Homo sapiens: one gene and its partners. The protein of the gene in region 2 interacts with the protein of the main gene of each other region in a pairwise test. Each region holds a gene or a part of one and is shown on either strand. Other genes may lie near its edges. The genes, in order: USP20, BEND5, GRAP2, LMO3, EIF3D, ZGPAT and FAM161A.

The links.
Region 1: the proteins of BEND5 (region 2) and USP20 interact in binary tests that used the Homo sapiens proteins (3 or more experiments, as listed by UniProt).
Region 3: the proteins of BEND5 (region 2) and GRAP2 interact in a two-hybrid assay, tested with the Homo sapiens proteins (one large-scale study listed by BioGRID and IntAct).
Region 4: the proteins of BEND5 (region 2) and LMO3 interact in binary tests that used the Homo sapiens proteins (3 or more experiments, as listed by UniProt).
Region 5: the proteins of BEND5 (region 2) and EIF3D interact in binary tests that used the Homo sapiens proteins (3 or more experiments, as listed by UniProt).
Region 6: the proteins of BEND5 (region 2) and ZGPAT interact in binary tests that used the Homo sapiens proteins (3 or more experiments, as listed by UniProt).
Region 7: the proteins of BEND5 (region 2) and FAM161A interact in binary tests that used the Homo sapiens proteins (3 or more experiments, as listed by UniProt).

Annotation. Positions count from the first base shown.
Region 1 is NC_000009.12:129,841,958-129,845,457, reverse strand, and holds part of USP20 (ubiquitin carboxyl-terminal hydrolase 20), read right to left. Parts: intron 1-3,500.
Region 2 is NC_000001.11:48,766,892-48,770,391, forward strand, and holds part of BEND5 (BEN domain-containing protein 5), read right to left. Parts: intron 1-3,500. UniProt on the Homo sapiens protein: Acts as a transcriptional repressor.
Region 3 is NC_000022.11:39,963,584-39,967,083, reverse strand, and holds part of GRAP2 (GRB2-related adapter protein 2), read right to left. Parts: intron 3,165-3,500; exon of another isoform or gene 2,710-3,164; coding exon of another isoform or gene 2,515-2,709; exon of another isoform or gene 2,179-2,514; intron 1,095-2,178; coding exon 926-1,094; intron 1-925. Other genes in the region: TMA7B (translation machinery-associated protein 7B), read right to left, coding at 2,515-2,709. UniProt on the Homo sapiens protein: Interacts with SLP-76 to regulate NF-AT activation. Binds to tyrosine-phosphorylated shc.
Region 4 is NC_000012.12:16,551,018-16,554,162, forward strand, and holds part of LMO3 (LIM domain only protein 3), read right to left. Parts: intron 311-3,145; coding exon 205-310; 3' UTR 1-204.
Region 5 is NC_000022.11:36,519,167-36,522,666, forward strand, and holds part of EIF3D (eukaryotic translation initiation factor 3 subunit D), read right to left. Parts: intron 1,523-3,500; coding exon 1,410-1,522; intron 372-1,409; coding exon 239-371; intron 1-238. UniProt on the Homo sapiens protein: mRNA cap-binding component of the eukaryotic translation initiation factor 3 (eIF-3) complex, a complex required for several steps in the initiation of protein synthesis of a specialized repertoire of mRNAs.
Region 6 is NC_000020.11:63,711,039-63,714,538, reverse strand, and holds part of ZGPAT (zinc finger CCCH-type with G patch domain-containing protein), read right to left. Parts: intron 1-3,500. UniProt on the Homo sapiens protein: Transcription repressor that specifically binds the 5'-GGAG[GA]A[GA]A-3' consensus sequence. Represses transcription by recruiting the chromatin multiprotein complex NuRD to target promoters.
Region 7 is NC_000002.12:61,844,061-61,847,560, forward strand, and holds part of FAM161A (protein FAM161A), read right to left. Parts: intron 1-3,500. UniProt on the Homo sapiens protein: Involved in ciliogenesis.

The DNA of each region.
Region 1 (3,500 bases), on a different chromosome or scaffold from region 2:
TTTTCTTTTGCCTGTTAAACCTCTGCTCCTAAAAACAAAAACAAACCAAAAAAAATACCTAAATCGGTTACTGTTAATGGTTTTTCAAGTTTCCAAAATAAGAAAATAAGAAGAGTGTGCATCTGGCTTCCTAGGTATGTTGCTCTTCCCCAAACTCCTGAGGGCACCATAGGGGACAGAGCCTCTGTTCCCTGGAGCTCTCCAGGCCCCTGTGCCAGGCACTGCCCTGAGCCTACACAGGGTGGTTTTCAGAGAAGGGGTGGGAGCATCTGAGTGGTCCCAGAAGTCCCCAAAGCTGCTACCTGGATGGCTCCTAAGCACACTTCTCCAGGTGACTCACAGGGGCCAAGAAGTGCCCTCAACATGTGTTTTTTGTATTTTTATCTATTTATTTATTTAGAGACCAGGTTATGAGACTGGCTAATTTTTGTATTTTTGGTAGAGACAGGGTTTTGCCGTGTTGCCCAAGCTGGTCTTGAACTCCTGGGCTTAAGTGATCTGCCCACCTCCACCTCCCAAAGTGCTGGGATTACACACATGAGCCACCATGACCGGCCCTCTCAATATTCATTTTTGCCTCATTTACCTCCATGTTGTATTCAAATTTTTCATCTTCTCCTACTTGTCCTGAAAATTTTAAAGGCATTTTTGTCTGGTTTTCATAAATTTGATATATACCTTCATAGAAGCTGGAAACAGACACAGACATAAAATGAAATAAAAATCACCTGTAATCCTGCTGTACAGGAAAAAAAATATGGTTACCTTTTTGGTTTTGGTAAGTCTTATTTACATGTACGAATATATAATTTTTTTTTTTTTTTTTTTTTTTTTGAGACAGAGTCGCGCTCTGTCACCCAGGCTGGAGTGCAGTGGTGCGATCTCGACTGAACACACTCTCCACTTCAGGTTCAAGCCATCCTACCACCTCAGCCTCCCGAGTAGCTGGGATTACAGGCACACACTCCCACGCCTGGCTAATTTTTGTATTTTTTGTAGATATGGGGTTTCGTCATGTTGCCCAAGCTGGTCTCAAACTCCAGAGCTCAACCAATCCATCTGCCTGGGCCTCCCAAAGTGCTGGGATTACAGGCGTGAGCCACCATGCCCAACCAGATATATAAATTTTAAAAATAAACTGCAATATAACCAATAAATTTGTATACAGCTTTTTTTGGTTTATATATTTCTAATGTCACTAAATTTCTTTTCAGCTTCATTTCTAATAGGTGAATAATATTATACCACATATAATTTAAGCTATACAACCCCTTACTGAATTATTTATCCATCATAGGACGTGGTATTTTTGTATTTTGTGTATGTGTGTTTTGCCATTATAAAGAAGGCACTGAGAAACATTTTGGAATATGAATCTTTTGTTTTGCTTAAAGACAAGTCTCAATCTGTCACCCAGGCTGGAGTGCAATGGTGTGATCATGGTTCACTGCAGCCTCTACCTCCCTGGGCTCAGGTGATCCTCCTACCTCAGCCCCCCAAGTAGCTAGGACTACAGGCATGCACTACCAAGCCTGGCTACTTTTTAATTTTTCTTTTATAGAGACAGAGTTTTGCCATGATGCCCAGATTGGTCTGGAACTCCTGGGTTCAAGCAATCTGCCTGCCTTGGACTCCCAAAGTACTGGAACTACAGGTGTGAGCCACCAGGAATGTGAAACTTTGACTAAATCTTTTTGTTTTGTTTTGTTTTGTTTTTTTGAGATGGAGTTTTCACTCTTGTTACCCAGGCTGGAGTGCAGTGGTGTGATCTCGGCTCACTGCAACCTCCACCTCCTGGGTTCAAGCAATTCTGCTGCCTCAGCCTCCCAAGTAGCTGGGATTACAAGCACACACCACCACGCCCAGCTAATCTTTTTGGATTTTTAGTAGAGATGAGGTTTCACCACATTGGTCAGGCTGGTCTTGAACTCCTGATCTCAGGTGATCCGCCTGCCTCAGCTTCTCAAGTGCTGGGATTACAGGCGTGAGTCACTGCGACCAGACTGTCTTTTTGTTGTTGTCGTGGTTGAGACAGAGTCTTAGTCTGTTGCCTAGGCTGGACTGCAGTGGCGTGATCTCTGCTCACTGCAACCTCCGCCTCCTGGGTTCAAGCGTTTCTCTTGCCTCAGCCTCTAGAGTAGCTGGGATTACAGGAATCCACCATCACACCCACATAATTTTTGTATTTTTAGTAGAGACGAGGTTTCACCACGTTGGCCAGGGTGGTCTCGAACTCCTGACCTCAAGTGATCTGTCCACTGCGGCCTCCCAAAGTGCTGGGAGTACAGGTGTACGCCACCATGCCCGGCCTACATCTTTGACCAAAAAAAAAAAAAAAAATTATTGGTCAAAATGTGTGCTTTGAAGGCTCTACATAGATATTGATAAGCTTCCCTTTAGAAACAGTATATACATTTATCTGCCTATCAGCAGTATATGAGTATGTGCAACATAAAAAGTTTAAGGTTTACTAACATTTTAAAAATTAATGGTTAAAAATCATTTCTATGAAGGAAAAAGGGCGGTAGTACAGAAAACACTGGGTGCTTAATATTCCACACAAAGGGCCAGGTGCGGTGGCTCACAGCTGTAATCCCAGCACTTTGGGAGGCTAAGGAGGGTGGATCACAAGGTCAGGAGTTCGAAACCAGCCTGACCAACATGGTGAAATCCCATCTCTACTAAAAATACAAAAAATTAGCCAGGTGTGGTGGCACATGCCTGTAAGCCCAGCTACTCAGGAGGCTGAGGCAGGAGAATCGCTTGAACCCAGGAGGCAGAGGTTGCAGTGAGCCGAGATCACGCCATTGCACTCCAGCCTGGGCAACAGAGTAAGACTCCGTCTAAAAAAAAAAAAAAAAACTTCCACACACAGGACCTAAAATATCGGAAGCATGGGGGTCGACAAGAGGGTGCATATCTCAGCTGTCTGAAAGTTATCATTTTGCTTCCTTTTGGTACCCAACCAACACTGACCATGTACCTCCTTAGGAACAGTGACTTGGGGTGCTGGGAAACAGCCAGGCATAGGCCCTGCTCTTGTAGTGTACAGAGTCCCATACTTCAACCTCAGGGTACTTGCAAGCAGACACTAGGGAGGTGATAATCACCACCAGCACCTCTGTTTCCTACACTCACTGAGGGTTAGCTGCTGCACATACATTATCCCGGGAGGTAACGGTCACTATGGAAGGAAATTACAGGGACAAGTAGCCCTGGGTTCAGTACCTCACTCTGCCCCTTGCAAGTCTGTGACTTTAGATAAATCGCTCAGTCTCCACATTCATAAAATGGGGACAATGACAGCACCTAGGGTTACTGAGAAGATGAAGTGAGCCAATGCACAGTAAACGCTAAGTTGAATGACTTAGGGCCTCATGGACTTTCTGGGTGGCTCAGATTTTTTATTGATTTGCATGACAAGAATGCTCAAAAAATGTTTACTACTATAATTTGTGTCACTGGCTGTTCTATACATTAGGACACTGAAATTGGTAGGA
Region 2 (3,500 bases):
CCTTGTGTTTTTGGTCCTTACAACCCAGTATATGATAAGAACCCAACCAAAATGCAAGGTGTGACTTCGTGAGAGACACTGGCTTATATAGTGCAAATATCTGCTCTCTATGCCATCCTAACCCTAATCCTGAGTTGAAGGTATAGATACCTCACATCCATAGAAGATTACTGAACATTCAGTGTCATCATAACAAATGGAAGAAATGGTTGGGAGAGGGTGGCCCAGTATCTAGCAAAAACAGTGCAGTCTTTTGAATCAGGTGGTCCTAATTTGGAATTCTGGCTTTGCTACATACTAACTGTGGCAGCTTGGGGTAAGCTAGTTAACCTGTCTGAGACTCAGTTTCATTACCAGTGAAGTGGGGATAATAAACTCTTTTCCAAAGAGATAGTGCATGTAAAAGCACCAAGCACAGTGCCTTTCTTGTCATAGATGTTCAATAAATAGCAGCTGTTAGGCTACCCTTGTGTATTACCTGTTTGCCTTTTGTCCCAAGGCAAAGAGAACCACTGCAGGTATCTGACACAGACTGAGACATGATGAAAGAGATGTTTTAGGAAGATTAATGTGACAGTGGCAAGCAAGACGGATAAGACGTGAGGAGGAGACAGAACACAGGGTGACAAGAAGCTGTAACTCTTGACTGGTCACATGAATGAAGGTGAATGGTGGTGTGGATCATGTAAGACAGTAAATACTTTATGTGGCATTTTAATGTGACTTTGGGATATGCTTCTGGCTTTGAATTCCAAGAAACCACAGAAGAAACTAGGAAGGATGAAAAAGCTCTTTACTCAGCCGGTCTGTGCAACTACTCTAACCTTGAGGCCAAATAATCAGTTTTAGTGTAAACAAAAATAAATGTGCAGCCTCTGAAGATAAAATCACCAATCTTCACTTCTGGACTCTTTTATGTCCAGGGCAAGGGAAACCACCAAAGATTTGGGCATTATCCTTTTCCTCCTCCTTTCTAGCTACTACAATGTCAGCTAATTACATTCATCCATTCAACAAATACTGAGTGAGCACCTACTATGTGCCAGGCTCTGGGCAACATTCCTTACAAACTCACTATATTTAATCCCTACAATAATGCTACTGAAGCAGAAACTGAGGCTCAAAGAAGTGAAGTGGCTTTCATAAAGACATAAATAGCAGAGCCAACATTTCAAATCAAGTCTGTTTAATACAGGCCCTGTTCCTATCACCTAATTATCCTACAGCAACAAGAGAAAAATAAGGAAGTTGCTGTAACTTCCTCAAATGAACTAAAAGGCACATGTAACATGAGTATGTCAATATAACTTCCTAAAGTGCCTGCCTTTCTCCCAAGATCTTGCCTACACCCTAAGAGAATACTGTGATGAATTCCCAAGTTGAAGTAAACACTATATAAATATGACCTGTTGCCAAACTCCTGAACTACAAGGCTTATGGAAGCCACAAAGCTCTAAATAATGCCCAAATAGGGTCTCTACTCAAAGCCACAAAGAGCTTTCTTGTAAAAAAAATGGTAAAAACTGCTATTCAAAAATATAGAAGAACTTGGTGTTATTAATCTGAGGAGGATAAACATTCCATTAAACTTACTACTGGGGAAAAAAGGAAGCATGCTGGTAATAGGCAAATGGTGTTTTAGAAAAAACAAGCAGGTGACAGGAAACCCAATGCAAGTCTGTATTCAAAAGTGAATTTACCCATGAAGAATTTACAGTATTATTAAAATGGGAGAAATTTTGTCTTAACTTCCATTTGACATATAATCAGGCTGGGCAATTAAAATAATCCAATGTCAGAGAGCCTAATTTGGTATGAGTTTGTTAGCCAGGATGAAATTCTGAAAGGCTACACATAAAATGCTTTGTAAAGGTCTTATAAATATCTATATATAAGTTTAAAGTTTTTCATCTATACAAAAATCCTGTGCAGTTTTATGTTTGCATTAAAAACAGATATGCCACAGAAAATACAAACACAGTGCATTCTCTGGCCGATGGTGTTTGTTTTTATAAAATCCAAGGCAGACAAAATTCTCAAGTTTCAAGGATTGTACCCAGCCAAGACTACAAAAAAAAGAGTGCCCTGCTGTGGTGTTGCAGAAAGACATCAGGAGACACCAAATCGAGGCCTGCCTCTCTCATTAACTTGTTTGGTGATTAGTCCTCTCTTGATTTTCTTTTCTGTAAAACATGAAGACTACAGTAGAAAACCTTAACAGATCCATCCAGCTATGTGACCGCTGGCCAGTCACAGGGACTTCCAGGTCTCTTTCTCAGCTGTGTAATGTAGGGTAACAGTAGATGAGCTAGAAGATTCTTCCACGTGGGCATGTTTGAAGAAATGCCCTACTGAGGCCATCCACATAGGGAGAGAAGGAATTGCTAGCCAGGTTTCAGTAGGTCTCCTTGTTCTCACTCCCACCACCTCTCTGGCCTTGGTACAGGACTGGGGCACAGAAAAAACTGGGAAGTTCATTCTATGGAGCCATTTGTCTAGCTGCCTCCATGTGCCTCACCAGGGCTGCTGCCAACACAATAAATGCCCCCAGGATAGGGTCGCAGAGGAACAAACAGGGAGGGAAATATTAATAGTAAGCCTTTCATGCTTAGGTCAAGTCCCAGGAGGATTTAAAACACACACACACACACACACACACACACACACACACACACACACAAGTTAAATTTTAAACTTGTATGCTCCTTCCAAGTGCTCGTTCCTCTAAGTCATTCCTTTCCACAGTGGGCAGTACCCACAACTAAGCAAGTCACTGTTCTTCTCTCAGCACCTATTAGTCCACTGTAGTTCCTAACAGTTATCTATATTTAATGAGAACCTACTATATGCCAGATATTTTTCCATATTATCCTGCTAAATAACACAGTGGGCAATTACTATCTCCATGCTATAGATGAGCACCTGGAACTCAGAGATGTGAAGTAATCTCCCCAAAGCCACACAGCTTCTAAGTAGCACAGTCACAATTTTAACCCAGACTATGTAACTTCAAAGCCTGTCCTCTTTCAGCTCTCTAAAATTTCCTCTTCAGTAGTTAAGGAAATGATCTAGAAGTCATCTAACCAAACTCTCCCATAGTGCAGGGTTCCATCCTAAAATACCCCTGACCTGCTTGCCACCTTTAGTGACAGGGAGCTCAGCACCATGCTAGAAGCCCTTTCCATTATTTGTCTGCTCTCTCTGCTGTTATATTGCTCCCACCAATGCCTGTGAATTCCATTCTCTGACCCCAACTCTGCTTTCAAGAGCAAGGCTGATCCTTCCTCTGTGGTGCAAAACTGAGAAAATGAAAATTACCAAAATATCATCCCATTCAAATCTTTTCTTTTCCTGCTTATGTATTTAGCTGTCCTATCCTATGTCTGACCAATGAGTGAAAAGGAAAAGGTAGCTGCTATATAGTTAAAAGAAACCCAAACAAGCCTAGTTCTAGGATCCAAAGACCTCTCTTCTCATTTGGTTTCCAGGACACCTATCTC
Region 3 (3,500 bases), on a different chromosome or scaffold from region 2:
ATGCTTCTTCCTATGATACCTGTCTCTTATAACCATGTTATTTCCTTTGAAAAATAGTTCATAAATTGGTGTGTGTGTGTGTGTGTGAGTGTGTGCATGTGTGAATTTACTTATGGGAGGCAAGTTAACATGTTCTTAGTGTTTAATATGGACCAGACTCTGGTAGTGCTTAGCTGTATTAAGTCATTTAATCCTCACAACAGCCCAGTGAGGGAGGTTTTATTGCTCTCTCCATTCTACAGATGAGAAAACTGATACTCAGATGGTTTCTTAACTTGGCTAGGTAATACAGGTAGCTAAGCGATTAAAGCAGGATTTCATACCAGGTCTGTCTGACGCATTTCCTTTTAAAGCAATAGTCTGTATTGCAAACAGTTGCAACAGCAATAATTCCAAGTGCAGTTTTCTCCTCCCATGTCCTCCCTACCCCCAATCCCATCATAAAACTCCACATGCTGATTTAACTCCTGAACTCTAGGCTGTTCCCTAATGTCCCTGTCTGTAGCACCCCCAACTCCTTCATCCTTGGGCAACTCTTGAGCTAGGTTGAAAACTTTGGTGTAGCAATGTCTATGAATAACAAAAAAACAGCACCTGTGGTAAGAGCTGATGCTTGCTGAGCGCAGTGTGATGAGGAATGACATGAGGCGTGGGATACATTATCTTCTCCAACCTTCACAGCCATTCTGGGAGGTAGATATTACCATTGTCCCTACTTTATGGATGAGGAAACTGAGGCGCAGAGAACTTTCCAAAGTCACACGACTAGGAAGTGTTAAGTTGAGATCTGACCTCAGAGCTCTGAGCTCTGTCTTTCAGTATACTCAGAGGATCTACCCATCCTATGCATTTTTCCTGGTGGTTCATGTGAGAACTCAGGCTGCCTAAAATCTCTAGATTGGGGTCGACTGGATCTGGAGCATACCTGGTCTTCTCGGGTTCTGTCTCTAAGGAAGATCTGCTTCTGTCTGGAGATGGAATTTGTCCTGTAGTAGTCTACCAGCTTATTTAGGGATGGAAACTTCTCAGTCCACAGAAAGTAATTACCCTTGTTGTCTCGCATGACCTTGAAGTGTTGAACGTCATCCTCATGCCTGGAGATCAAGGCAAAACAAAATTGTATGTTACACGGTGATAATGTCACCACCTCCAGGCTGCTCACATCTGGGATGGTGGAGTTCTCTTTGAGCAGGAGATGTAGATATGGATGACTCACTCATCACTGGGCAGGTGGGCCAGCCCAGTCAGGCTTCGGCAGGAACTTTGTAGGATGGACCACTTAGGATACAGGCTATGCTAGACGGGATTTACATCAGCAGAAGGTAATCAGATGAGCTAAAATTTGTTTTGGACACTGGAACTAACCTTTTACAAGAAAAGCATGTTCCAAGTGACTTAACGACAAAGAGATCAAAGACCTTTTCACAATGTTTATTCGCAAGATGTCAACAGGGGTATTTCAAGCTCCTATTATCTTTCTGTTACCAGAAATTCTTTGAACCATCTCCTTTAAGCCCATAAGCTAGCACTGGCAGGTAAGAAGCTACTCTCTTTCCTAAGAAATATGTCACATTTTTTCTCTATGTAATAAGGATCTCTTGATCTTGGTTTATGTTTTGCATAAATAAGGTTACAAAGTGTTTTCAGCTTTTGGTGAAATAGCTTTGTATGAAATACAGAGTTTTTGTTTGTTTGTTTGTTTTGTTTTTTTGAGATGGAGTCTCACTCTGTCGCCCAGGCTGGAGTGCAGTGGTGTGATCTCTGCTCACTGCAACCTCCGCCTCCCAGGTTCAAGCGATTCTCCTGTCTCAGCCTCCTGAGGAGCTGGGATTACAGGCACCCACCACCAAGTCTTTAGTAAAGACGGGGTTTCGCCATGTTGGTCAGGCTGGTCTTGAAGTCCAGACCTCCGGTGATCCACCTGCCTTGGCCTCCCAAAGTGCTGGGATTACAGGTGTGAGGCACTGCGCCCTGTGAAATGATAGAGTTTTAATTGGCAAGGATGTTGGAGATTGTTTAGCCTTACTTCTCCATTTTACAGATGAGGACACTGAGGCTCACAGAGGTGCAGGGGCTTGGTCAAGGTCACTGCTGAGTAAGGGCTGAGGCCAGAACCCTGAGTCTCTGACTCCAGTCTAGTGAGCTTGGCCTGTCACGCCACCTAAACATGATAACTTCTTTTTTCTTTCAAATGAGTTGGTTTAATTTCAGGTGATACAAAGTTTAGGGTAGAACAACGACCAAAGAGCAGATTCTGGCAAGATTCTGAGCTGGTTTTACTTTAAATTCACAGTTATGGTAGGAATGACTTAGTGAAAACAACTAAAGAGATGATGAGCCACTGGAAGATTTTTTTTTTTTTTTTTTTACAAAAGTTTATTCTTAAATGTACAACAGCTCCAAGACGACACTTAATTCCAACTATAGGTGGCAAAAGATATTATAGGAGGGAATAGAGAGGTTTAAATACGGATGAAATAAAGGGTCACCGTCTCCTTAGGCACAAGGAACAGCTTATTTTTTGCCAGATTTCTTAATTCCACCTGTGGCCAGAGGCCCCTTCCCCACGACCTTCGCTTTTAGCACCTCGAGTTTCTTCTGCTCCTCTTTTTGTTTCTGCTTGAAAGCCTTCTCTTCCTCGTCCATCTCCTTGGCCTGCTTCTTGGGCTGTTTCAGTGCCTTCTTCTTGCCACCTTCGTGGCTGGACATGGCGCCTGCCGCCCCTTCCCCAGACCCTGCCACTGGACGATAACTTCTTTTAGATCAGCACCTTTTGTTGCCAGTCTGGACTCACAAGTGATGGGACACATTCGAACCAGGGCTAGAGAAAATGGATTTTATCCATCTAGGAAGGGTGGGCTGAGCCTTTACCATTAGATCCAGTTTTACTTCATTGCCAAGTCATTCTCTTTTGGATGTAAAGTTTATTTTTCAAACAGACATACATTTATATCTAAAAATAAACTGGCACTAGTGATGCCAATTGCCTGATGTAAAAGAAAGGTCAAGAATTTTAAAGGGTCTCGGAGAGTAAAGATACCTCTGAGAGTAAGTGGAGGTTTCTTTTTGAGTCAGAGTCTCGCTCTGTCGCCCAGGCTGGAGTGCAGTGGCGTGATCTCTGCTCACTGCAAGCACCACCTCCCAGGTTCATGCCATTCTCCTGCCTCAGCCTCCCAAGTAGCTGGGACTACAGGCGCCCGCCACCACGCCCGGCTAAGTTTTGTATTTTTAGTAGAGACGGGGTTTCATCGTGTTAGACAGGATGGTCTCGATCTCCTGACCTCATGATCCGCCCACCTCAGCCTCCCAAAGTGCTGGGATTACAGGCGTGAGCCACTGCGCCTGACCATGGAGGTTTCTTAGGGATGGATTTAGGGACCTGTGTTAAGAAGGAGATGGAAATTCTGACCCTCAATCTCATCTTATGTGCTGGGATTTGCTCATAGCTGGGTGAAGCCACAGGTTGTACAAGTGGCCTCTTGCTTGACTGATTTCGGGTG
Region 4 (3,145 bases), on a different chromosome or scaffold from region 2:
TTTCTTTAATAATAAACATTCAACTCTGAACTGGGGCAATTTCACTACATACAGATGCAGTCCGCCTTTTATTCCATATAACCATCCTGCCTTCCTATATCTACGCTATTCAGTAGGTTCCTGTGTCAATTCTTATGTACATGTGGAGCAAAAAAGATAAAAGAATGTAGTGCTTTGTATTCTTAATGGGGTGATGTTGATAGATCAGCGAACCTGGGGTGCATAACCTTCTTTCATTAAACCTTCCTCGTAGTCCGTCTGGCAAAGGATCATGTTATTCTTTAGGAAAAATTTGTCTCCAACACAAAATCTGAAAATATTTTAAACAATAAAATGTGGTTAAGACCATTTCACTTGGATCTAGAAATTTGAAGATTTATTTTCCTATTAATAGTTTCGCATGGTAATTCCCTGAATCTGAAAACCTGGCTTAGACAGTTGTCTTCATTATCAGAATTAGACCATTTACCATTTACTTCATTTAATGAAATGTTGCACACATTTGAAATCTTGCCTTTGCATGCAAAAATTCTAAGGATATTGAGATAAACACTTTGGGCACCAAAGATGACTTGCTTTTTTTTTTTTTAAACCACACTGGAAAGAAAAAAAATAAAAAGAACTGATCTGTATTTACACCCATTAAAATAAAAGAAAGAATGATAATAATGTTTCACTGCAGTAATTATGGATGATTTCATCTCTGGCCATTTAGGCACTTAATAAAAAAGTAAAAGGCATTAAAATGAATCAAACAATTAGAAAATAGCCTATTTTAAAGCTTCCCATTTAAAGCTTTCTTTTACTCTGTTATTAAAATGTGATTAAATGTTAGTAATCTAGAAGTGATCATTCTGAAATGAAAGTTGCTCTAGCATCAGATTCTGATGCTGAGCCATTTTCCTTTGTTTGTGGCAAGTTCACCAACATGAAATAGTAGATGTCATTTCTTAGAGCACTTCCAATTCAACCAAAGGGAGTAACCTAAATGAACTACTTAATATTGATGTGATAAACTAAACTAGTTTCCAATAGCTAATTATGCATTTTATTTCATAAAGCATTGTTTAATGTGCAAGACTGCAATGTTTTTAATAAGTGTTCTTTCTGTATGATTTCCCCACGGTGACACTTTGGACACAATTAAGGTCAGAAATAAATGTTTTTTCTGTTTCTGGTACATTTAACAATAAAGTAACTCTGGGGAGATCTGTATATATATTTAATTGTAACAATTTAACCTTCAAATAGTGGTGTCTGGTAGAGTTGACCCAGTAAAACTACTTGTAATTATACAAGTTGACCTCTATGACCTTTGATAGTAGTCTCTCTTTATCAGATAGTCAATTTCAAATGATGTTCCAGCAGAAATCTTAGTGGATAGATTAAATTGTGTAGTGAAAGCCACCCTTTAATGTTTTGTGAAGTTGAAGGTTTAAATGAGGAGCAGTTGGACTGATTTACATTTGCAAAGATTGGAATGCTAGACAAACAGTGAACCTATTTTTTTCCAACTGGGTAGCTTTGGAAATTTATCCTTATACTAGCTAAGTAGATAGAGAGGAAAATAGTGTAATAAAAAAAGTAGACTGAAAAGAATTAGCTTTCCTCTTAAAGGAAAATTGGTCTATTTGTGGAATTTACTTTTTTTCCCCAGGATTACTGCCTGCTGATGATGTTGATTGAAAGCACAGACTATGCACTGATCTTGAAATCCTAGGGTTGTTTGTGGTCAAAGCTACTGGATACAATGAACATTCAAGTTTGGGGCTTTAAGTATATTTTCTTTGTATTAGTTGTAACCTGTATACTTTAAATGTTGCACTTCAATAATGGTGTTTGTGCAAGCCAGTTTGATATCCTTATCAAATGAAAAGTGTCTGAAAGGCAGAGAGGTATACTGCAACCAGTAGGGTCCAAACTCTACCTTCCCACTTATGATAATTGAAAATAAAACTTTGGTTTTTAATACCTGTGACATCAGTCGACTTTGTAGGCTTGTGGCAAGGAGTAGAAATGAAATATCTAAAATCTTACCTCAATGTTTGAAACATAGGTAAAATAGCCACCTTTTTATGCTTACCATGTGCTAAATGCTAAGCATGTATGTACATGATCACATTTATTCCCTACATCCAACCTAGAAAGTAAGCATTGTCATGGCTTTTTACAGAAGAAAAACCTAAGACTCCGTGCCAGAATTTCAAAGCCCTGCCCAAGATTCTGTAGTTAAAACGTTTATAGTAAAGGAAGAAAAATAACCCAGGCCTTTTTGGATTCAAGACTCAAGCTTTTACCTGAGGGCAGTAAAGCATGCAGGCTACAAGAATAATGTGAAGATTAAATGGTTATACAGGGTGTAACTGTGTTTTTTGTATTACTATTATTTCTTTTGCATAACTTTAAAAAAGTCTGCCTACTATTCAATTAAGTGGTATATATAGAGCAACAGAGGCAGAGCGAGAGAGAGACAGAACTTTTCTAAAATATTCCTACCTGACATATTTTATTACTAATATGTTATCAACTGGATAAAGTGCATTTTATATGCATTTCAATTTATACTTAAAGGTCAAGATGAAACGAACATGGATGAGGGATGTCACACTTGCACATATGACTCAAACAAAACAGCCTTGAAAGCTGTGGTTAAGAGCAGATTACGACTGGTATGCAATTAAGGTTGACATCCTCTTTAAAAAATGCTTCATATATAAATATAAAGAAATTTCAGAGACAGCAATACAGATAGTATGTATTTAACAAATTAATCTGTAACTGTGATTTTGTAAGAAATGCTAATTTCCAGTGTGATTTAACCAACTTCTTATGAGATTCAGCATTTGCAGGAAAAAAAAAAAAAAGCATTATGAAAGGAGTGATAGCCAGAGGATACTGTAAGTATATTAACAGGCTACAATTACTAAAAATAAACATAATCTTTCTTGTAATCTGACCCTAATTACTTGTAGTATGCTCAGTTCAATTAATTTTACCCTCATTTAAAAAAATTATGGTAAGGAATAAGAAGATGCCCAATTAGATTATTAAACCATCTAATTCTGATGTTTTGGAATTAATATGAGATGTAATTTCTAGATATTTTTGAGTGATTTAGCTGACTTCATATAGTCTTAGAGACTTG
Region 5 (3,500 bases), on a different chromosome or scaffold from region 2:
CATCTACCCCTTGTTGCAGATGAGAGAACTAAGGCTCCAGAGACTAAGCCAGGAAGCGCGGCAGAACTGGGCTTCAAGTCCAGCTGTGCTTAACATCCACATTTCCGGTCTACCTGGCAAAGTGCTTTTACCTATAATACATACGTTATTCCCATGTCTTCTGTTCTTTCTGCAGCTTCAGCTGTAGAAGCCGACAGCATTCCTAACAAGGGGGAGAGGGGCAGAAGGAGGCGCACACCTTGCGGATGACAGGGTCGTCTGTGGTGGTGACAGTGTGGAAGATGCGCTTGATGCTCCGCAGTGGCTTCTCACTCCTCGTGGTGATGCGGTCAAAGGCTTTGTCGTAGTATTCTAGGGCCCCACAACACTCACTGTGGGAAGAGCAGGCAAAGACATGCAAAGTAAGAGAGATAACCCCCAGTTTTTTCTTTTAAGCCATACATCCAGAAGTCTTATCCAAAAGTCTAAAAGAGGTGGAAAGCAATCTCTGGCCAGAGCAGGAGAGACGAATCCTCAGTGCTTGCTCAGTTCCTGTCCACTTAACACCTGGCATAGAACACAGCAAGCACAACTCATCTAGCCCAACGCCCCCATTTTAAAGGTAGGGTGACCGAGGCTAAGACAGGAGATGACTAGTTATAGAAGCACCTGGGTAGGCTGACTTCTCGTCTGGTGCTCTGGTTTCCCACTACCTAAATTCCACCTACTTGTCCTTTGAGGTAAGAAGCTATTTGAAATGTCAGGAGAAGCAAAGATTCCTCCTGAAGAATTGCTGTGTTTCTTTTCCTGACAAGAGTTTTATAACTTAATCTTATTGCTCTTTTGCTCAGGATGCCAGGAAACAGAAATATACAGTTTAATAATCAGCAAATTCCATTCTGCTTTCTCTTTCTGCCAAAAGAGTTGTATAACTCATTTCTTCTTTCCTCAGGATACCAGGAAGTTAAAAAGAAGTTTGCAGTCAGTGAACTTCTGCTTTTCCCCTTGGTCTTGATTTTTTTTTTTTTGAGATGGAGTTTCGCTCTTGTTGCCCAGGCTGGAGTGCAATGGCAAGATCTCAGCTCACTGCAACCTCCACCTCCAGGGTTTAAGTGATTCTCGTGCCTCAGCCTCCTGAGTAGCTGGGATTACAGGTGTGTGCCACCACACCCGGCTAAGTTTTTGTATTTTTAGTAGAGACTGGGTTTCACCATGTTGGCCAGGCTGGTCTTGAACTCCTGACCTCAGGTGACCCACTGCACCTGGCCGGTCTTGATTTTTTTCAAATACCTCTGTTAACCTTATGAAATGTGTTTTGAGTAAGTGGCTTCAAAGCCTTTTTGGAAATACTAGGGCTTAAGAAAATACCCATCACCAGCTGGTCCACACACATAAGAGCAGTGTAGAAAGTAGTAAAAGATGCTGCTTACATGTCCTGTGGCTCTGATACTTCCAAGTAGCGCATCTTCATCAACTGAGGAAAATCCATTTCCTCTTTCACTTCCCAATCACTACGAACTTCAACTGAAGAGTCTCGGGGTTTCTGCAGTTGAAAACCATTAGAGGAAAAAAAAGTTATAGTCCATACAAAACATAAATAAAAGACAGGCTAAAAATATGAAGAGCTGGCCTGGTGCAGTGGCTCATGCCTGTAGTCCCAGCACTTTGGGAAGCTGGGGCAGGATGATTGCTTGAGCCCAGGAGTTTGAGGCTGCAGTGAGCTATGATTGCACTACTGCACTCCAGCCTGAGTGACACGAGATCCTGTCTCAAACAACAACCACATAAAACGGAGGGGCTCAGTGGCCCTTTGGGAGGCCAAGGCGGGCAGATCACCTGAGGTCAGGAGTTCGAGACCAGCCTGTCCAACATGGTGAAACCCCATCTCTACTAAAAATACAAAAATTAGCCAGGCATGGTGATGCATGCCTGTAATCCCAGCTACTCGGGAGGCTGAGGCAGGAGAACAGCTTGAATCTGGGAGGCGGAGGTTGCAGTGAGCTGAGATAGCACCACTGCACTCCAGCCTGGGTGACAGAGCAAGACTGCGTCTCAATAAAAGAGAGAAAAGAAAAAGAGCTTTTATTCAATAAATGGAGTGCTGACTGTTTTATAAGACAGAATCCCTGACTCCCAGGAATTTATGGTGTGGAAGAGGACCAAAGGGATCAAAAGTTCAAAAGCAAATGGGGTTCCACTCCCAGGTAATGATGTCACCTGATGAACATGTAGAAGGTCCTTTATATTTCTCTCGGGTTATTAACTATTCTTGATACAGCATCATATCCAACAAAATGTAGCTTCACTTTTGCTTACATGTGTTCTGTTCTCAGAATGCCCACACAAGCACACGCAGGTGAACGTTCACAGCAGCATCAATAATAGTCAAAAAGTGAAAAACAACTCAAATGTTCATCAGCATGTGAATGGCTCAAAACAACATGATGTATAATTCAAAGGACTCTTATTTGGCAATAAACAAGAAAAGAAGCTCATCTGGGCTGGGTGTGGTGCCTCACGCCTGTAATCCCAGCACTTTGGGAGGCTGAGGTGGGTGGATCATCTGAGGTCAGGAGTTTGAAACCAGCCGGGCCAACATGGTAAAACCCTGTCTCTACAAAACATATGAAAAAAAAAAAAAAAAAGCCAGACATGTTGGCACGTGCCTGTAATCCTAGCTACCTGGGAGGCTGAGGTGTGAGAATCACTTTAACCCGGGAGGCGGAGGTTGCAGTGAGCCAAGATCGCGCCACTGGCACTGCAGCTTGGGTGACAGAGTGAGATTCCATCTTAAAAAAACAAAAAACAAAAACCAAAAAAACCAACAACAGATGAAGCACAGCTGAACTTGAACAACATGGGTTTGAAGTACATGGGTCTACTTAATATGCAGATTTTCTTCAAACAAACATGGATTGAAAATACAAGCCAGGCGCAGTGGCTCATGGCTGTAACCCCAGCACTTTGGGAGGCTGAGGTGGGTGGACTGCTTGAGCTCAGGAGTTTGAGACCAGCCTGGGGAACATGGCAGAACCCCCTATCTACAGAAAATACAAAAATTAGCCAGGCGTGGTGGTGCATGCCTATAGTCTCAGCTACTCAGAAGGCTGAGGTAGGAGGATCACTTGAACCCAGCAGGCAGAGGTTGCAGTTGGCTAAGATTCATGCCACTGCACTCCAGCCTGGGTGACAGAGCAAGACTCTGTCTCAAAAAAGAAAAGAAAAAGAAAACAGTATTCTTGGGATGCAAACCCCGAGTATATGGAGGGCCGACTTTTCATATATGTGGCTACCACAGGCCGAATGTGGGACTTGAGAATGTGTAGACTTTCATATACTGAAGGAAAACTGTACCGACACATGCTACCACATGGATGACTCTTGAAAACACGCTAAATAAAAGCTGCCAGTTACTAAAGACCACATATTGTATGATTCCATTTATGTAAAATGTCTAGAACAAAAAATCCCGAGACAGAAAACAGATTCATAGCTGCCTACTGCTGGGCTACTGGGGGTGC
Region 6 (3,500 bases), on a different chromosome or scaffold from region 2:
GTGAAAGACTAAAAGTTTTCCACCTAATATCAGGAACAAAAAAGTTTTCCACCTAAGATCAGGAACAAGATAAAGATGTTTGTTCTAGCCACTTTTTTTTTTTTTTTTTTTAAAGACAGGGTTCTTGCTCTGTCGTCCAGGCTGGAGTGGAGTGGCATGATCTTGGCTCACTGCAACCTCCGCCCCCCAGGTTCAAGCAATTCTCATGTCTCACCCTCTCAAGTAGCTGGGACTACAGGTGCACATCACCTCACCCAGCTAATTTTTGTATTTTTAGTAGAGATGGGGTTTCGCCGTGTTGGCCAGGCTGGTCTCAAACTGCTGATCTCAAGTGATCTGCCCACTTCCACCTCCCAAAGTGCTGGGAACACAGGTGTGAGCCACCACCCCCGGCCCGCTCTAGTCACTTTTATTCAACATTGTACTTGAAGTTCTAGCTAAGGCAGTTAAGCAAGAAAAAGAAATAAATGCCATGCAAACTAGAAACAAAGACTACAATTATCTCTATTCACATATATATTAATTGTATATATTGAATATATATGATTGTATATATCGAAAATCCTAAATAGTGCATAAAAAATCCTATTAGCACTAATAAACCAATTCAGCAATCAATACAGGATTAACATAAAAAAATCCACTGTATTTCTTTTTTTTTTTTTTTGAGATGAAGTCTCACTCTTGTTCCCCAAGCTGGAGTGCAATGGCGCGATCTCAGCTCACTGCAACCTCCGCCTCCCAGGTTCAAGCAATTCTCTTGCCTCAGCCTCCTGAGTAGATGGGATTACAGGCACCTGCCACCATGCCAGACTAATTTTTGTATTTTTAATAGAGGCTGGATTTCACCATGTTGGCCAGGCTGGTCTCGAACTCCTGACCACAGGTGATCCACCCGCCTTGGCCTCCCAAAGTGCTGGGATTACAGGCGTGAGCCACGGTGCCCAGCTTGTATTTCTATATACTAGCAACAAACAGCCTGAAAATGTAACTAAGGAAAACAACTCCAGCCGGGCACAGTGGCTCACATCTGTAATCCCAGCACTTTGGGAGGCCGAGGCAGGCAGATCACCTGAGGTCAAGAGTTCGAGACCATCCTGGCTACATGGTGAAACCCCATCTCTACTAAAAATACAAAAAATTAGCTGGGCGTGGTGGCAGGCACCTGTATTCCCAGCGACTCAGGAGGCTGAGGCAGAAGAATGGTGTGAACCCGGGAGGTGGAGCTTGCAGTGAGCCAAGATTGGGCCACTTCACTCCAGCCTGGGCAACAGAGCAAGACTCCATCTCAAAAAAAAAAATTAGCTGGGTGTGGTGGCAGGCACCTGTGATCCCAGCTACTTGGGAGGCTGAGCAGAAGAATTGCTTGAACCCGGGAGGCAGAGGTTGCAGTGAGCCAAGATTGTGCCATTGCACTCCAGCCTGGGTGACAGAGCAAGACTCTGTCTCAAAAAAAAAAGGAAAAGAAAAACAATTCCTTAGAGAAGCATCAAAAATAATACTTATTTAACCAAGAATGTGCAAGACTTGAACAGTACAAAATACTGTTGAAAGAAATTAAAGACGTAAATAAATGGACAGATCCTTCATTCATGAATTGGAAGACTTAATACTGTTTTTTTCTTCTGTTATTGTTGTTGTTTAAGATGGAGTCTCCCTCTGTTACCCAGGCTGGAGTGCAGTGGCATGATCTCAGCTCACTGCAACCTCCTCCTCCCAGGTTCAAGCGATTCTCCTGCCTCACCCTCTCGTGTAGCTGGGATTACAGGTGTGCACCACCTCCGACTAATTTGTTTTTTATTTTTAGTAGAGACGGGGTTTCACCACGTTGGCCAGGCTGGTCTTGAACTCCTGACCTCAAGTGATATGCCCGCCTCAGCCTCCCAAAGTACTGGGATTACAGGCGTCAGCCACCACACCCAGCCAGAAGGCTTAATATTGTAAAGATGACAATGTGCCCCAAACAGATCTACACATTCTATGCAATCCATATCAAAATTCAAACTGTCTTTTATGCAGAATTGGACAAGCCGATCCTAAAATTCATATGAAATTGCAAAGGATCCAGAAACAAAACAAACTTGAAAAAGAGGAGCAAATGGTGAATAACTACCACTTCCTGAGTTTAAAACTTATCACAAAGCTATAATAATCAGAACAGTGTGGTACTGGCACATATACACCAATGGAACAGGAGAGAGAGCTCAGAAATAAACCCTTACATATATTGCCAATTGATTTTGGACAAAAGTGCCAAGACCATTCAGTGGAGAAAAAGCAGTCTTTTAAACAAATGGTGCTGGGAAAACTGGAAATCCACATGCAAAAGAATAAAGTGGACCCTCACCTAATAACATATACAAAAATTAACTCAAAATGGATCAAAGACCTAAATTTAACAGCTAAAACTACAGAACTCTTAGAAGAAAACATAGGTGAAAATCCTCATAACTATGGATGAGGTGGTTTCTTAAACCTGATGACAAAAACATAGGCAATAAAGAAACAATAAATTGCACTGCATCAAAATTTAAAATGTTTGTGCATCAAAGGACACTATATCAAGTGAAAAGACAACCCAAACAATGGGAGCAAATATCTGCAAACTATATACTTCATAAGGGATGATATCCAGAATATATAAAGAAATCCTGGGCCGGGTGTGGTGGCTCATGCCTGTAATCCCAGCACTTTGGGAAACCAAGGCGGGATCACCTGAGGTCAAGAGTTCGAGACCAGCCTGGCCAACATGGTGAAACCCTGCCTCTACTAAAAATATAAAAATTAGCTGGGCACCACGTGGTGACAGGCGCCTGTAATCCCAGCTACTTGGGAGGCTGAGGCAGGAGAATCCCTTGAACCCAGGAGGTGGAGGTCATGCCATTGTACTCTAGCCTGGGCAACAACAGTGAAACTCCATCTTAAAAAAAAAAAAAAGGTCCAACGCAAATCCAAGAGAACTTATCAGTCCTGAATGGTGGCAAGGTGGACGTCTGTAAGATGCTCCGGAAGCTTTCAGATCAGGCCTGATGCCGACATGGCAAGCAGCACTGGGTGGAGCAGGGGACGGAACGAGGGCTGGGGGCAACCGGAGCCCTCTGAGCCTTGAAGCCCTGGACCACTCAGTTCTTCTACTCCTGTTTCCTCCTCTGTCAGATGGTGTGACTGCAGGGCCTACCTACAGGGCTGTTGCACAGATGAATGAAAGTATATGAAACCCTTGGAGCAGTGCCTGGCCCAGAGGGAGCACCACAGGGATGTGTCAGATCTCTCATCAAAGGGATCAGGAATTCGAGACCTGGGTAATATGGTGAAATCCCGTCTCTACAAAAAATACAAAAATTAGCTGGGCGTGGCAGTGCACACTTGTAGTATCAGCTATTAGGGAGGCTGAGGTGGGAGGATGGCTTGGGCCAGGGAGGCGGAGATTGCAGTGAGCCGAGATTGTGCCACTGCACTCCAGCCTGGGTGACAGAGCAGCAAGACGCTGTTTCAAAAAA
Region 7 (3,500 bases), on a different chromosome or scaffold from region 2:
TGAACCTGGGAGGCAGAGCTTGCAGTGAGCTGAGATCAGGCCACTGCACTCCAGCCTAGGCGACAGAGCGAGACTCTGTCTCCAAAAAAAAAAGCAGTCTTCAATAGAACTTACGTGCAGAAATTTGCTACCAACAACTCTATGAATCAGAGAACTGCTTTAACTATGTCAAACAATTCAATTAAGAGAATTCTCTGATATCTTCTGCTGTTTCTTTATGTGCTTCTCACCATAAACTTCTTATCTGCAGGATGACTACTTTGTGAATTTCCTCATTCATTAAATATTTGGGGGCCATCCTGCAATCAGCTAGCTGCTAAAATGTACGTCAGATTTTTTTTAAACTCTACCTTTGAGGCCAGGCACAGTGGCTCACACCTATAATCCCAGCACTTTGGGAGGCCGAGGCAGCCAGATCACTTGAGGTCAGGAGTTTGAGACCAGCCTGGCCAACATGGTGAAACCCCCTCTCTACTAAAAATACAAAAATTAGCCAGGCATGGTGGCAGGTACCTGTAGTCCCAGCTACTCGGGAGGCTGAAGCGGAAGAGTCACCTGAACCCAGGAGGTGGAGGTTGCAGTCAGCCAAGATCGTACCACAGCACTCCAGCTTGGGTGACAAAGCAAGACTCTGTCTCACTTAAAACAAACAAACAAACAAAAACTCTACCTTTGAGAAGTTTCCAGCTAGCTTAGGAAAGGACATGTATATAAATAATAGACAGCTGACTTAGAATGAGACAGAACACCTGATTCCTGCCCACAAGCTACTTCCAGCTAAGCGGAGAGACAGATGTATGTCACAATGTCAGACACTAAGAGACAGAGGCACAATTCACAGAGGTGAGCCAGACTGGAGACACATGGTTGGACGAGGACAAAGTTTGCCAGATCAGGGAGGCAGTGAAAAAGGAATAAATAAATCCGAGGCATAGTGCTAGAACATCCATCGCCAGGAAACATGTGGATAAATGTCTGGAGACCTGGTGAGAAGGCTGGGCTGGAGAGCAGATACAGGAGCCACCAATCCACACAGAAGTAGCAGGTGCAGCCTTGGTTATGGACGAGGCTGCCTGGAGGGAGTGTGAGCAACAAGACATGAGAGGACCTGAGAATGGAGATGTTGGAGAACACCAACATTTAAATAAGCAGCGGAAGGAGGACTAATAGGAGGTAGAGAGTGGCATGAGAGATACAAAGACCAACTGATACGGGTCTTTGGAGCCTCTGATTGAGTATTCTGACACCACATCTGTAATTTTTCTCCTAAACCATGAGAACACTCCAAACTAAAAGTTATTTAACTCTCACCCAATGCTTTCACCTTTATAGGGTCAAAAGGGGGCTGAAACCAGGTGACCAGTGACCAGGAGCCAGTGGTAGACAGGAAATGGAGGGAGCTTTTGTTTCGTTTGAGTTTGGAAGATAGGGGAAGACTTCCTGGAGGAGGTAATATTTGAGATGAGTCATAAAGAATGGAGGCCAGGTGTGGTAGCTCATGCCTGTAATCCCAGCACTTTGGGAGGCTGCAGTGGGAGGACTGCTTGAGGCCAGGAGTTCCAGACCAGCCTGGGCAACACGGCGAGACACCATCTCTACAAATTTTTTTTAAAAAATTAGCTGGATGTGGTGGCTGAGGTGGGAGGATCACTTGAGCCCAGGAGGTTGAGGCTGCAGTGAGCCGTGAGCGCGCCACTGCACTTGAGCCTGGGCGACAGAGTGAGACCTTGTATCAAGAAAAAAGAAGGCTGGGCGCGGTAGCTCACGCCTGTAATCCCAGCACTTTGGGAGGCTGAGGTGGGTGGATCACCTGAGCTCAGTAGTTCAAGACCAGCCTGGCCAACATGGTGAAACCCCTTCTCTACTAAAAATACAAAAATTAGCCAGGCATGGTGGCGTGTACCTGTAGTCCCAGCTACTCAGGGGACAGAGGCAGGAGAATCGCTTGAACCTGGGAGGCAGAGATTGCAGTAAGCTGAGATCGAGCCATTGCACTATAGCTTCGGCGATCAAGCAAGACTCTGTCTCAAAAAAAAAAAAAAAAAAAAAAAAGAATGGAGAAATCTATAGGATCACAGAGTGTTTATGGGAAAGAAGGGGAAAGTACCCTAGGCAAAGGAAATGGCGTTAGCAAATGCGCAGGCTGGGGTTGGGGAGGCTGTGCATAGCAGAGGGCAAGGTGCACATGGCTGCCGGATAAAAGGAGAGGAAAACCCATAAAGCAGTTTTGGGAAGTAAACCTAGAAAGGGAGGTTAGGGCAAGCAAGAAGGGGTTTCCATCTCCTGCCTACCACTGGCTCCTGATTACTGGTCACGTGGTTTCAGCCCCCTTATGACCCTTCAAAGATGAAAGGGTTGGGTGGGAGTTAAATAACTTTTAGTTTGGAGTGTTCTCACAGCTTAGGAGAAAGATTTCAGATGTGACGTCAGGATACTCATACAAGCCTGGGCTCCGCACTTAGCAATGTGATGTGGGCATGAACTTCTTGAACATCAGCTTTAAGATATGTAAAGTAGGTGTGCCAGGTGTTAAACTAGTGTCTCTCAGCTCCAATGCCACCCTTCTCGACTCTGCTTTGCAATGCCAGAGCTGGAACTCTGCAAACCACACTTCTGCTTTGCCAGTGCTCCTCATCAGACTCTGCTAAAAGTGGAGTTAGAGGGAGATACAAGGCTAGAGGAGAAAGATGGGACTTACTCCTTTCTGTTAGCCCTCTGACTGCTTCCTGTCGGCTTGTGTCAGTCTAGCAACGGTTATTCATCTGGGCAGCAGCAGTTCGTTTTAGTAGCAGTGTCTGAATCCAGTATGCAGTTTTCACTCGAAAAATCAACAGAATTGGCCAGGCACAGTGGTTCATGCCTGTAATCCCAGCACTTTGGGTCACTTGAGGTCAGGAATCCGAGACCAATCTGGCCAACATGGTGAAACCCCATCTCTACTAAAAACAAAACTTAGTCGGGTGTGGTGGTGCATGCCTATAATCCCAGCTACTCGGGAGGCTGAGGCAGGAGAATCGCTTGAATCCAGGAGGCAGAGGTTGCAGTGAACCAAGATCGCACCACTGCACTCTAGCCTGGGTGACAGAGTGAGGCTCCATCTCAAAAAAAAAGAAACAAAAATCCACAGAATTACTTCAAGGCCTTTGCACTTGCTGTTCCCTCTCCCTAGGATGCCTTTTCCTCCAGATATCCACATGACCCACTTGCTCACTCCTTCAGGTCTTTATGTAAATGTTGTCTTCTCAATAAGGTCTTCCCTGACTCTCCTATTTAAAATTACAACTTCTCCCAGGACTCACTGTCAGCCCCCTTGTCTGTCTTATTTTTCCCAGAAGTACTCATCACCATTGACGTCCTACATATCTGTACTTGATTGTGTATTATATGCCTGCCCCTACCAAAAAGTAAACATTACAAAGGTAAGAATTTGCCAGGCCTGATGGCTCAGGCCTGTAATCCCAGCACTTTGGGAGGCTGGGGCAGGTGGATTGCTTGAGCCC